Homo sapiens: one gene and its partner. The protein of the gene in region 1 purifies or fractionates together with the protein of each later gene. This does not show direct contact. Each region holds a gene or a part of one and is shown in the gene's direction. Other genes may lie near its edges.

The links. Proteins that work in one complex are often made in the same cells at the same time.
Region 2: the proteins of BCL7A (region 1) and SMARCE1 purify together in Homo sapiens (affinity purification with mass spectrometry; 5 studies listed by BioGRID and IntAct, with this or other methods). This does not show direct contact.

Annotation. Positions count from the first base shown.
Region 1 is NC_000012.12:122,027,771-122,033,048, forward strand, and holds part of BCL7A (B-cell CLL/lymphoma 7 protein family member A), read left to right. Parts: intron 1-2,929; coding exon 2,930-3,011; intron 3,012-5,278.
Region 2 is NC_000017.11:40,640,789-40,646,066, reverse strand, and holds part of SMARCE1 (SWI/SNF-related matrix-associated actin-dependent regulator of chromatin subfamily E member 1), read left to right. Parts: intron 1-219; 5' UTR 220-264; coding exon 265-271; intron 272-447; coding exon 448-491; intron 492-3,507; coding exon 3,508-3,612; intron 3,613-5,278. UniProt on the Homo sapiens protein: Involved in transcriptional activation and repression of select genes by chromatin remodeling (alteration of DNA-nucleosome topology).

The DNA of each region.
Region 1 (5,278 bases):
AGGTTGCAGTGAGCCGAGATTGTGCCACTGCACTCCAGCCTGGGCCACAGAGCAGGAGTCCGTCTCAAAAAAATAAAAAAAATAAAAAAATAAGAAAGTGATGAGTATAGCTTAATACCCTCATTGGGGAAGAGGAGCAACGCCCTTTTTTGGGGAGGGGTATGTGTTCTGTGGTGATGGTTTTGGGGGGCAATTGTGGGAAACCTCAGCTGCTCCGCTGAACCCGTGTGCCCACCCAGTGTGTCTGTGGCTGTGAAATCCCATGTCCTCCTGGGTGCTCACTTGGTGCCTTAAACTTGAGCTCCATGGCCCCTCCGGGTGGCTGCTTAGCTGAGCATAGGTCCAGCTCAGAGGTAGAATTCTTAATGTTCTTGCCTCTGTCCCAGAGTCCCCTCAATGTCCACACCTAGAAATACAGTTTCTCATCACTGGGGTAACTTGAGAACTCGGTGAAGAGGTTGCCAGTTGGGGCAAAGAGAGGCACGAAAGCCTGGCTGCATTCAGCTTGTAGCCTGCGGTGGCCTCGAGCCTCGCTGGGAAGCAGCTGCAAACTTGCATCTTGGCTGATTTGCGGCCGCAAAGCCCAGATCTCTGGCACACTTTCTGCCCTGAAAGGTGTCCTGTGTGTTACAAGTCAATTACTTTTTTTTTTTTTTCCCAAACACAATCAAACCTTGAATGGGTTGATTTACTGGGAAGCTGGTCCAGGGCTCATGAGTAATGAATGGCTTTGGCCAATCTGCATGGAGTCCTGGCAATTTGTCATTCTTCCTCCAGCTTCTGTTACCCTGGCGCTCCTTTAGAATGATTCTTGGTTTTCATGGCCAACAGAATAGCAGGAGGTGGTGTCTGGGGTCCGAGCCCAAATCTAATTCTCTTCTGCCACTTCCTGTCTGTGAGACCCCAAGCTAGTGGTATAACCTCTCTGGGCATCCTGTTTCTGCATCTGTAAAAAGGGTGACAATCGTCCCCCTCTTGTAGCCTGTTGGGAATCCCAGGGAGAGAGGGTGTGTAAGTAGAGTGCTTGGCGTGGAGCCTGGCATGTAATAGCCTGGGCACACAGTGGCTATTGTGATGGTTGCTCTAACAACTGAGGTTCTTCCCAGGAGCACTCGGTCTCTTCTGGACACCTTCTGATTGCTCAGAATTGAGGAGGGGAAAGGTGGGCATTGTGGTTTGTCTGCTCTGCCCACAGGAGGCAGGAGACGGGCCAGTGGACTTAGACACTCGTCTTTCCTGCATCGTTTCTGGGTGAAAAGGTGCAAGGAGGAGGGAGCAGAGAGGCTGGTCTCAACAGCTGTGCTGGGTGAAGGGTTCGAGTGCTGGCTCTGGGAGAATGAGTTCACCTTCACCGCCCTGTGCCTCGGTTTCTTTATCTGTCAAATGGGGAAGTTGCCATTTCCTGCCGGATGAGCCGGCACAGTCCTTGGTACATAGAAGGCGCTAGGAATGGCCACTGGTATAATAAGAAAAGCCGGGCCGTAGCGTCCTCTGATGGAACACGTGGGACCCGAGCGGGCAGGGTTTTTGGGGGTGAGGTGTCTGTGGTTTCGGCTGGCTGGGTTTGAGTATGCTCCGTCATCCCGCAACCCCCGTGGTGACAGGGTGGGAGTCCTGTAACCTGTCACACCAGCATGTGAGGGCCACATGCCCCACGAGGGGGTGATCTAAGGCTGAGTTTGGGCAGAGAGGCCAAAAAAAGGTGCCAGGCAGCTCACGGACAGAGGTGCTCGTGCCACACAGAATTCTCAGTTCTGGGAATTTTTGTCACCAAAATTGCTGAGGACTCGGGCAGCTACGTCGCCTGTACCAGGGGTGCGCCTGCCCCAACAGTGCCTGCTGGGCCCCTTAAATCCGCCAGCCTCCTAGCTGAGCCATCAGTGGCTCCTTGGTGGCCTCGCAGGTCTCCTGATCTGGCAGAGTCTTGATTTAGGAGCCTCGGTTCCAACCCCAGCCCTGCTTCTGGGAGGCTCTCCTGAGCCTCAGTCCCCTCAGGGGTGTGGCTGCTGGGTCTTCGTGGCGGTAAGGGACAAGTCGGAGTGCAGGGGGTCAAGGACAGGAGGTGGCTGGCTGTAGCAATAATCGGAAAAATGACAGTGGCTCGGAGCAGAGTGGTGGTGGTGGAGGAGAGGGTGGGCATTGTTATCTCGAATGAAAACCAGTCCTGTTTGCTTCTGTGGCTTGTAAGTTTCTCCTCATCCATAAACCTGCCTCTCACAGTGGGGGGTCTGGACTCCGTCCTTCAGGCGTTTGTAATGCAGCTGGGGTGACCTTGCAGACAGGGTCACTAGGAGCCCTGAATCAGGGGTGCAGTTCCCCTCCCACCTGGCTGCACCCACACATTCAGGCTGTGTAACCTCCTTTCGGGCCGAGGTCACCACTCCCTGGCTCTCCTTGGCCGCCACGAAGGGCATTCTTCCGGCAGAGTGTGGGCGGCTCCCCGGCTTGCCTGCTCATGCCTCCCCTGACCTCAGACGCATCGCCCAGAGGGCAGGAGGAGCCCCGGGGTGTCCTTGGTGACGACTCCACCCCCCATGAGAGGAATCGGCCTGCTGGCCTGAAGCCCTCTCTGCTGCCCAGACAGGCGCGGGTGGCCCAGTCCACTGGCTGCGTGGCATTGGCAGTGACACAGGAGGAACCTGGGCCCGACTCGTGCCACCCATAGGAGTCCTTGTAATGGCAGCCCCACCCTCAGCCTTTTTGGCGACAGCCTGGAGAGGGCAACCACCCTATGTGGTGTAACGGGTGGAGAAACCAGGCTTAGATGGGTGATGTGGCCTGCCCAGGGCCTCCCGCTAGTGAGGGTGGAGCTGGGATTCCAACCCTCATCTGTGTGATCTGGAGCTTGCTCTCAGCCCCAAGGGAGTGTGGCCTGTGTCCCCCAGGGATGAAGAGTCCCCGGTAACAGGCTCTTCCTCATCCTCCTCAGGGAGAAGAAATGGGTGACCGTTGGTGACACATCCCTACGAATCTACAAATGGGTCCCTGTGACGGAGCCCAAGGTTGATGACGTGAGTATGGAGGGCTGGTCCCCTGGGGTGGGCCACCCATTCGTGCTCCTCCCACCATGGGGAGGGAGATTGTCCACTGCTACCCACCGTGCTGGGGCTCTGGGACCAAGAGCCCCTGGGAGTAGAAGGACCCAGATTAGACCTGGGGAGGCTGCTGTACCAGTCCCCACCCCTCCCACTCCAGCCCCAGAGTCTGGCCCTCAGAGCGGTGGACGGGGGGATCCCGCAAGCTGTGTCTTCTTCTTCTTCTTCTTCTTCTTTTTGATACAGAGTCTCACTCTGCCGCCCAGGCTGGAGTGCAGTGGTGTGATCTTGGCTCACTGCATCCTCTGCCTCGTGAGTTCAAGCGATTCTCCAGCCTCAGCCTCCCGAGTAGCTGGGATTACAGGTGCACACCACCACACCCAGCCAATTTTTTCGTATTTTTAGTAGAGACGCAGTTTCACCGTGTTGGCCAGGCTCGTCTTGAACTCCTGACCTCGGGTGATCCACCTGCCTGGGCCTCCCAAAGTGCTGGAGTTAAGGCGTGAACCAGTGCGCCCGGCCTGCAAGTTGTGTCTTCTGGGCCGAGCGCCCCCCCCAGGGCTTGGCACTGTGTTTTGGGGCAGGTGTGGTGGTGCCCACAGTTAGGCACGTTCTCCCCACCTTTGTGGTTCTGTTCCTGAGCCTCTGACCATCTGCCAGGCCCTGGGCTGATGCCTCACATGTGGCATCTCCGTTATTTTTCCTACTCAGCCTGTGGAGTTGATCTTTTTAACCTCTCCTCTGTACAAGTGAGGGCACAGGCTCAGAGAGGTGAAGCCACTTCACATGGCTCACCTCAGAGCTGTGAATGGAGCTCAGGTCTGTCTGACTCCAAAGCGCAGGTTCTCTCTGCGCTTGGAGAGGCTTCTGGTGAGTGGAGCTGCTGGTGACAGGGGTCCCCGGTGCTAGGAAAGCCTGGTGTAGGGATGCGGGGCTCCAGGAGGGCTCCAGGAGGGGTGGCGCCATCCCGACTTCCACCACTAGAGGGAATGCGAGGCGCTGTCCTGTGATGGCTGGCAACTGCCCCGAGCAGACAGTGCTCTCCCAACTTCGTGGTTCCCAGGCCAGTTACCTCCAGAGACCCCTCTCATTTCCATCCCAAATCAAGAACAGTCTGCCCCATAGGCCTTTGCCTGGGCCATTCCCCCCTGCCTGGACTGCCTTCCGTATTTACTCAAACTCAGTCCTTCTACCTGGGAAGATGGCGCAGACTAACCCACATGGCTGCGGCCACTCCTGGGAGTGACGTAAAGTCATGATTGGTAGGTTTGGGGTGGGGGAAGCATGTGGGGGTCCAGCTTCCTCCAAAAAGACAGGGGCTAAGTTTCTCGCCCCCATCTTCAGTTATCTGCCCGGCAAGTCTTGGGTCTCTGGGCAGGGCTGTGGCTCCATTCTTCACCCCGTGATCACATGCTCACCCCTGAACTTGGGCCTTTGTTGTCCCTTCTGGTTCTAGCCTGGGCTCCCGGAATCACCAGGGCTGCTTTCCCCAAAGGGACTGAGCCTTGGTCTCTCTCCGCATCTCCCAGGGAAGAGCAGGGCAAGCTCCTCGAAGGCAGTTCCTGGCTCCGGCCCATGTCTGTGCCTTGCCCGCCATTAGGTGTAGAAATGCTGGTTGCATTTGAGAAGATGTGGTCCCTGCTCTCAAGGAATTTCTAATCTCGTTTGGGGAAGATAATTATAGAATAGCATGAAACAGATATCAGGGAAGTGCCAAATGGAATATGATCAAGGGGAAAACGTAAGCCCTGGGCCATCGGGAAGGACCGGGCAGCTCTAGGCTTCAAGGGACCGTTTGATTTGGAGGCAGACAGACCAGCCCCGATTAACCTGTGATGTTAGGCAGGTGACCCCACATTGCTGGGCCTTAGTTCCCTCTTTTGTGTAATGGAGCAGTAACATCCAAATCGCGGTTTCTGCAACAGAGCAAAAGCAATATATCACCACGGAGAATACTTAGCACTGTGCCGGCTGTGCAGACGGTGCCGAGAAATGCAAATTCCCTCTTCATCTGTGAGCCATGATGTGCCATGTGCCACTCCCCCACCCCCTTTCCCTCTAGGGCGATGGTTCTCGGCCTGGCTGAGCACCTTCAGAAGATGCAGATTCCTGGGCCCATCACCAGCCGCTGAGTCTCTGCAGGTTGAGGCTGGGAATCTGCCTTGTGGAGGGAGAGCTTTTTATTGTTTTAAACACTCAGTATCTATATGGTTATATCCATTTGTTACTTTAGAACTCTTGAA
Region 2 (5,278 bases), on another chromosome or scaffold:
CTAAATATCCCCAGTACTTTATTTTAGTCATTTAATTCTAATCAACCAAATGACCTATAAGAACTAGTTAAAATACACAAAAGGCTTAATTACTAGGAATTAAGGTGAAGTAATTTTACTCAGAAATACCAATTAAATTACCCTATTCATTAGGAAAACATTCTCGTATGCTTGCTGAGTTTTGATTCTCTTTTTTTTTTCCTTTTTTTTTTATTTTAGTGTCTCAGATTCATTCTTAAGGAACTGAGAACTTAATCTTCCAAAATGTCAAGTAAGTTTCAATTTTTATATTTATCAATCTATGTTAATAAGAGACTAATGCCCTAGCAAGTGGGAATTCCAAAATACTCTCATTTTTTTTTCTTCAAAACAGGACCATTGGTAGTTTTGTTGCATAGTATTATATCTCAGTTGTTTACAAGAAGTTATTTATTTTCTTTCAAACAGAAAGACCATCTTATGCCCCACCTCCCACCCCAGCTCCTGCAACAGTAAGTTTTAATTTTCTTGTTAATGTAATAGCCAACTCTGGCCTTGATACAAAAACCCAGATGTCTTCCAGTGACAGTCACTCAATCATCACAGCAACAGGATGAAATTCAGCTTAAAAGAAAAAAAAAAAAGCACTTCCTACTAAATAAAATAATTATTTGCATCTTTCCTTGAACCAACCCCAACATTTAAAGAAACAGTACTGTAAAACTCCAACCTCCTGTGCTCAGTTTGTTTTGTTTTTTCTTTGTAAATGGGAAATAAGTGAAAGTTTTACCATTTCTTTCTTATTAATCTTCACTATTAAGAGTCTTTAAGTTGTTACTGAGTGAATGCTCATTCTGGCTATTTTGTTAAACCTAACCTTCAACTGGTTATGTTTTTCTCTCCTTTCTTGTCTCTCTCTAAAATTTTCATATTAAACAATAAAGCTTCTGAAACTACTCATTGTAAATATTTTCAAGCTGTTCAAGTAAAGATTTCATTATCTATGGGGCAGATCTTGCTATTGAATCTTATTCCACTCCATAAATTATATTTTATTGGTTTGGAAGTATATATGTTTTAAGTAGTTGTGAACGTGTTTTTTCACCCAGGAAGCTCTGGCCCAGCTTGGTCAGCATGTAAAATAATTTTCCAACCCACAAAACAGATTTAGCAGTAACTGTTCAGGTCTTGCTGAAATGGCTTCCTTGTTGGTTTTTTGGGAGGGGGGGTTTTGTTTGTTTTTAAAAAAACACTGTTAGCATGACCAAATTCTACAAAATTAGTTCTTTAATATTAATCCTTCCTTCCATACCCCCACCACCTAAATTTCAGGCTAGTCTACTTTTCACTACTAATTAGGTCCTTGTGTAACTTAGTTTTCTCCGCTAAAAAACTACTCATATTTACTAACCCTCAGATACATATTTTAGTTACATTTATCAACAATTTGTTTTTCTTTAGTGAGATACTTTAGAAAAGAGATACCGTACCATATGTTCTCATTTCAATTTATGTCATATACAGGCTCTAAAGTTAATTCCAGTAGACTATAAAGTCCTATGCTTGCTTTGTTTTCTTTCTTAAATCGAAGAACATTTGTTATGACCATCTCCATGGCATTCTGCTAGTGGCTATACAGGTGGAGCTGAACAATTGAGATTCTGACCTCAAAGAGCTAACCATGTACTTCAGCTTTGGAAATGGTATAATTATAATGTTTTGCTTTCCATTTTTTTTTTTTTAGTTCCCTTATTTTTATAACATTATTGCCTCATAATGTTGAACAGTGATTCTTATTATTTATGCTACCTTTGAAGGTGTCATTTTGACAAAAATACTGCCTCTGACAATGCATCATCTTGACAAACTTGATTTTTTGAGATTAAAATATTTCAAAAACCAAGTGTCCCCTTATAATTTATTATGCATAAAAAGGAATTTTTTTTGCCTTTCTTTAGTTATATTTTTGTGTCATTATAGTTTCACATTAACACACAAAATATAGAAGACTAGGGATTAAAACATCCAACAGAATGGATACTAAATGAATTATTCTTCTTCCTTTTTTCTTTCCATTACTTCTACCACCACCACCACCATCACCACCACTACCAACACTATCACCACTATCACCTCTGCCACCCAAATGTACCGCTGCAAGTAATATACACTTCTTTCATGCCTTTGATACTTCAACTGTGTTTTGCCTACTTAAATATGCTTTATTTGCGTCTTTTCTAACTGTATAGACTAGAAATTGATCAGCCGTTCTCTTTTCTCCTAAAGAGTATCAAATGTAATATCTGCTTAAATGTCTTTCTTTTGGGTACTAAGGATATGTGCAGCGGCATGTTTTAGGAAATTGTGTTTATTTTGTAACAGCTACAGCTTAGTTGGAATGTGTTAAGTGTATTTTACATTATACAATTAAGGACCGATATTGTTAATTGCATGTAAAAATGAAATTGTCACATATTTTGATTGAATTTTACAAGGTAAAATACCCTAATTTTGGTCTCTCTCTACTATATTCTTTCTATGCATTATGCCTTGGTTCTCATGAACATTGAGTGTCATTGTATTAGCCCCAAGGCTACTGCTATATAAGAGCCCATTTGTGATTACATCAACACATAATTCACAAAAACCAAGGGTTCTGTTGCTGAAATGAGCAGTTGTATTTTGAAAGGGTGAGAGCTATCAGGAAACTAGATGAAAAAAGAAGTCTATAAACTAGAAAAGTAGTTCACATTGAGACAAAATGCAGAAATGTTTTCATGATTGACCAGTGGAAGATGGATCAAAGAAGAAATGGAAGAGAAATCCTATAAAAGAATGACTGGGTTAAAAAGATCAGATAGTACCCCAGAATGAAATCCATGCATTTCTTACAAGTCTTTGTTTTAAATCATGTATGTGACATCCATCAAATCCAACATATGTTCTTTTCAATTGACAAATCCTGGCTTCCCGATTTGAGTCTCTACTCATTTCTCACATTATATAAAATGATTTAAAACTGTCGTTGAAATCAGATCCATTTCTTTTTTTTGTTTTTAGTAGATAAATACATTGGTGGCATCCACATGTCAAATAAATTGTATTTTGTTTTGCATGTAGTGTTTTCAGAGTTCTAGTTGATCACACTTCAAGCCTTCCTATTTCAGTCTTCATATATTGCTAAGTTGTTTTATCCTATTGTTGACCATAAAGTAATCCTGAATGTTTTAAACACTTCAGTGTGTTGCTTACCTCAAAAAACAAAACACACATTCACAGTCACACAAACACCCCCAGCCCCTGCAAAAAAGAAAGAGAAAAACAACCAAAAGACACTGCAGACAGGTTTCTCAATGAAAGAAAAATATTTAATTTCCTCAGTGGAAAAAAAGAACAATTACAACACATCATTGCTTGTTTAAATTCAGGTTGCTTTTGCATGCCATATGCAGATCATTTTTCATTTCTGTGTTTTCCTCGTTTGAGCTCATTTCTCATTCGTGTTTTTGTCTCATTTGTTTCCATCAGCAAATGCCCAGCACACCAGGGTTTGTGGGATACAATCCATACAGTCATCTCGCCTACAACAACTACAGGCTGGGAGGGAACCCGGGCACCAACAGCCGGGTCACGGTAGGAGAATCAACTATTACAGCATCCGGCAAACAACTGGAATTGACCAGAAATGCCTTCAGAATTAGGTCTTTTTGAATCATAAGCACAGCCATTTAAAAAAAATTTTTTAACCTAGCTTTTTGAGTATTTTCAACATTCGTTGTAGCATCTCACACTGAAAAAATAAATAGTGAGATCTGGAATGTATATAGAAGAAAAGAAAAATCCATTCTGTTTGGTGGTTGGTAGGGTTAAAGCCTTGAGCACTTGATGCTTATACTGTATGTAAACAAACAGAATTTCTTAAGGTAAAAATATCCTTTTTGACATAAAGAGTATTTTTCATTTTTATAAGGTGATTGGCATTAGTCTCAAGGATTGAGTTTCTAGTAGAGGCTGGTCTTTCAGACCTGGCTTTTTCAGGGCTGGAAAGCTTTTGGCTGGTACACCAGTTTGAATCGCTACCCATAGTTATTTGTCTTTTGGATTTAGTAGTTGACCTTCTAACTAAGACTCATTTCTCTACAGTGAAAAAGAGAAAAACGTTTTAATGTCACCTCAAAGAAATGCAGAGTGAAGGTTGAATGAAATTAATTTGAAGTATCAGACTAGATATGTACAACGAGAAGTGCATTTCTAATCCTTAGTATAAGAGATAGGATTTCTGAAACTTAGCATGTTTCATTTAAGTGATCAGCCTAAGATATCAAAATTGGATGATACACTTCAAATCTTTTAGTTTAGAATCATCTTAAATTTCATTCAAAAAAGTTTAAGCACCAAAAAATGCCAATAATTATAAAAATGACTTACTAAAGATAAAAAATCCAAAAGTCAAATACTACATTGGAATGTAGTGTTGGTGAGAATTTATACAACCCAGAATGGCTGTAAAGTTTTTAATACCTGGTTTTTGTTTGCTGTATTCATAAATAACAAGTGCCTTCTATTAATGTAACTTCAAAAAAGCCCTCTCACCCTGTAGTCAAGCTGGAACTGAAAGCTTGTAGCTATCAAATGAATGTCTATCTTGATAAGCATATTGCTTAGCTTGATAGGTTTTGTTTGTCTAAATTTTTCATTGTTTCTGCATAATATGTACTTCATAAGCATATCAAGTTTTATGTGCCATGCATATTTCATGGTATCTGAAAAAGAATTCTGACAAAGTGTGTGTATGTATGCATTTCACAATGCATACAATTTTTATGTGCATCAATACATGTTTTTCCCTGGCCTAAACATGTTGTTTCACAAGTGTAATGGATGGCAAGGTTTTCAAATGATAAAGAACATTTCAGTTTAAACAATGAACGGAATCAATCATGGATCTTAATGTTAATGCAGCAATTTTTTCACGGGCAGTAAACAAGAATGATTGCATTTAATAGCTCTATACAGTCACCTCTTGATTATCTATGTTAATGGAATAGAAATGATAACTATAATATTACAGTAATTTGTCTTTTGGTTTTGTGTAAGTATTTTGCTCTTAACTTGGATGTAGCTGTGGGGGATTCTCAGTTAAAAAAGTGAGATTGTTCGATGGAGACTAGGAAGAGAAAGTGTACTCCCTATCTGAAGTCACTCATCTGTTTCTTCCCATTCCTTCTTGGCGAATGTTAAGAACTGAACATTTGGCGTGGACACTAGCTACATAGTAGATTAATTATAGAGAGTTGTT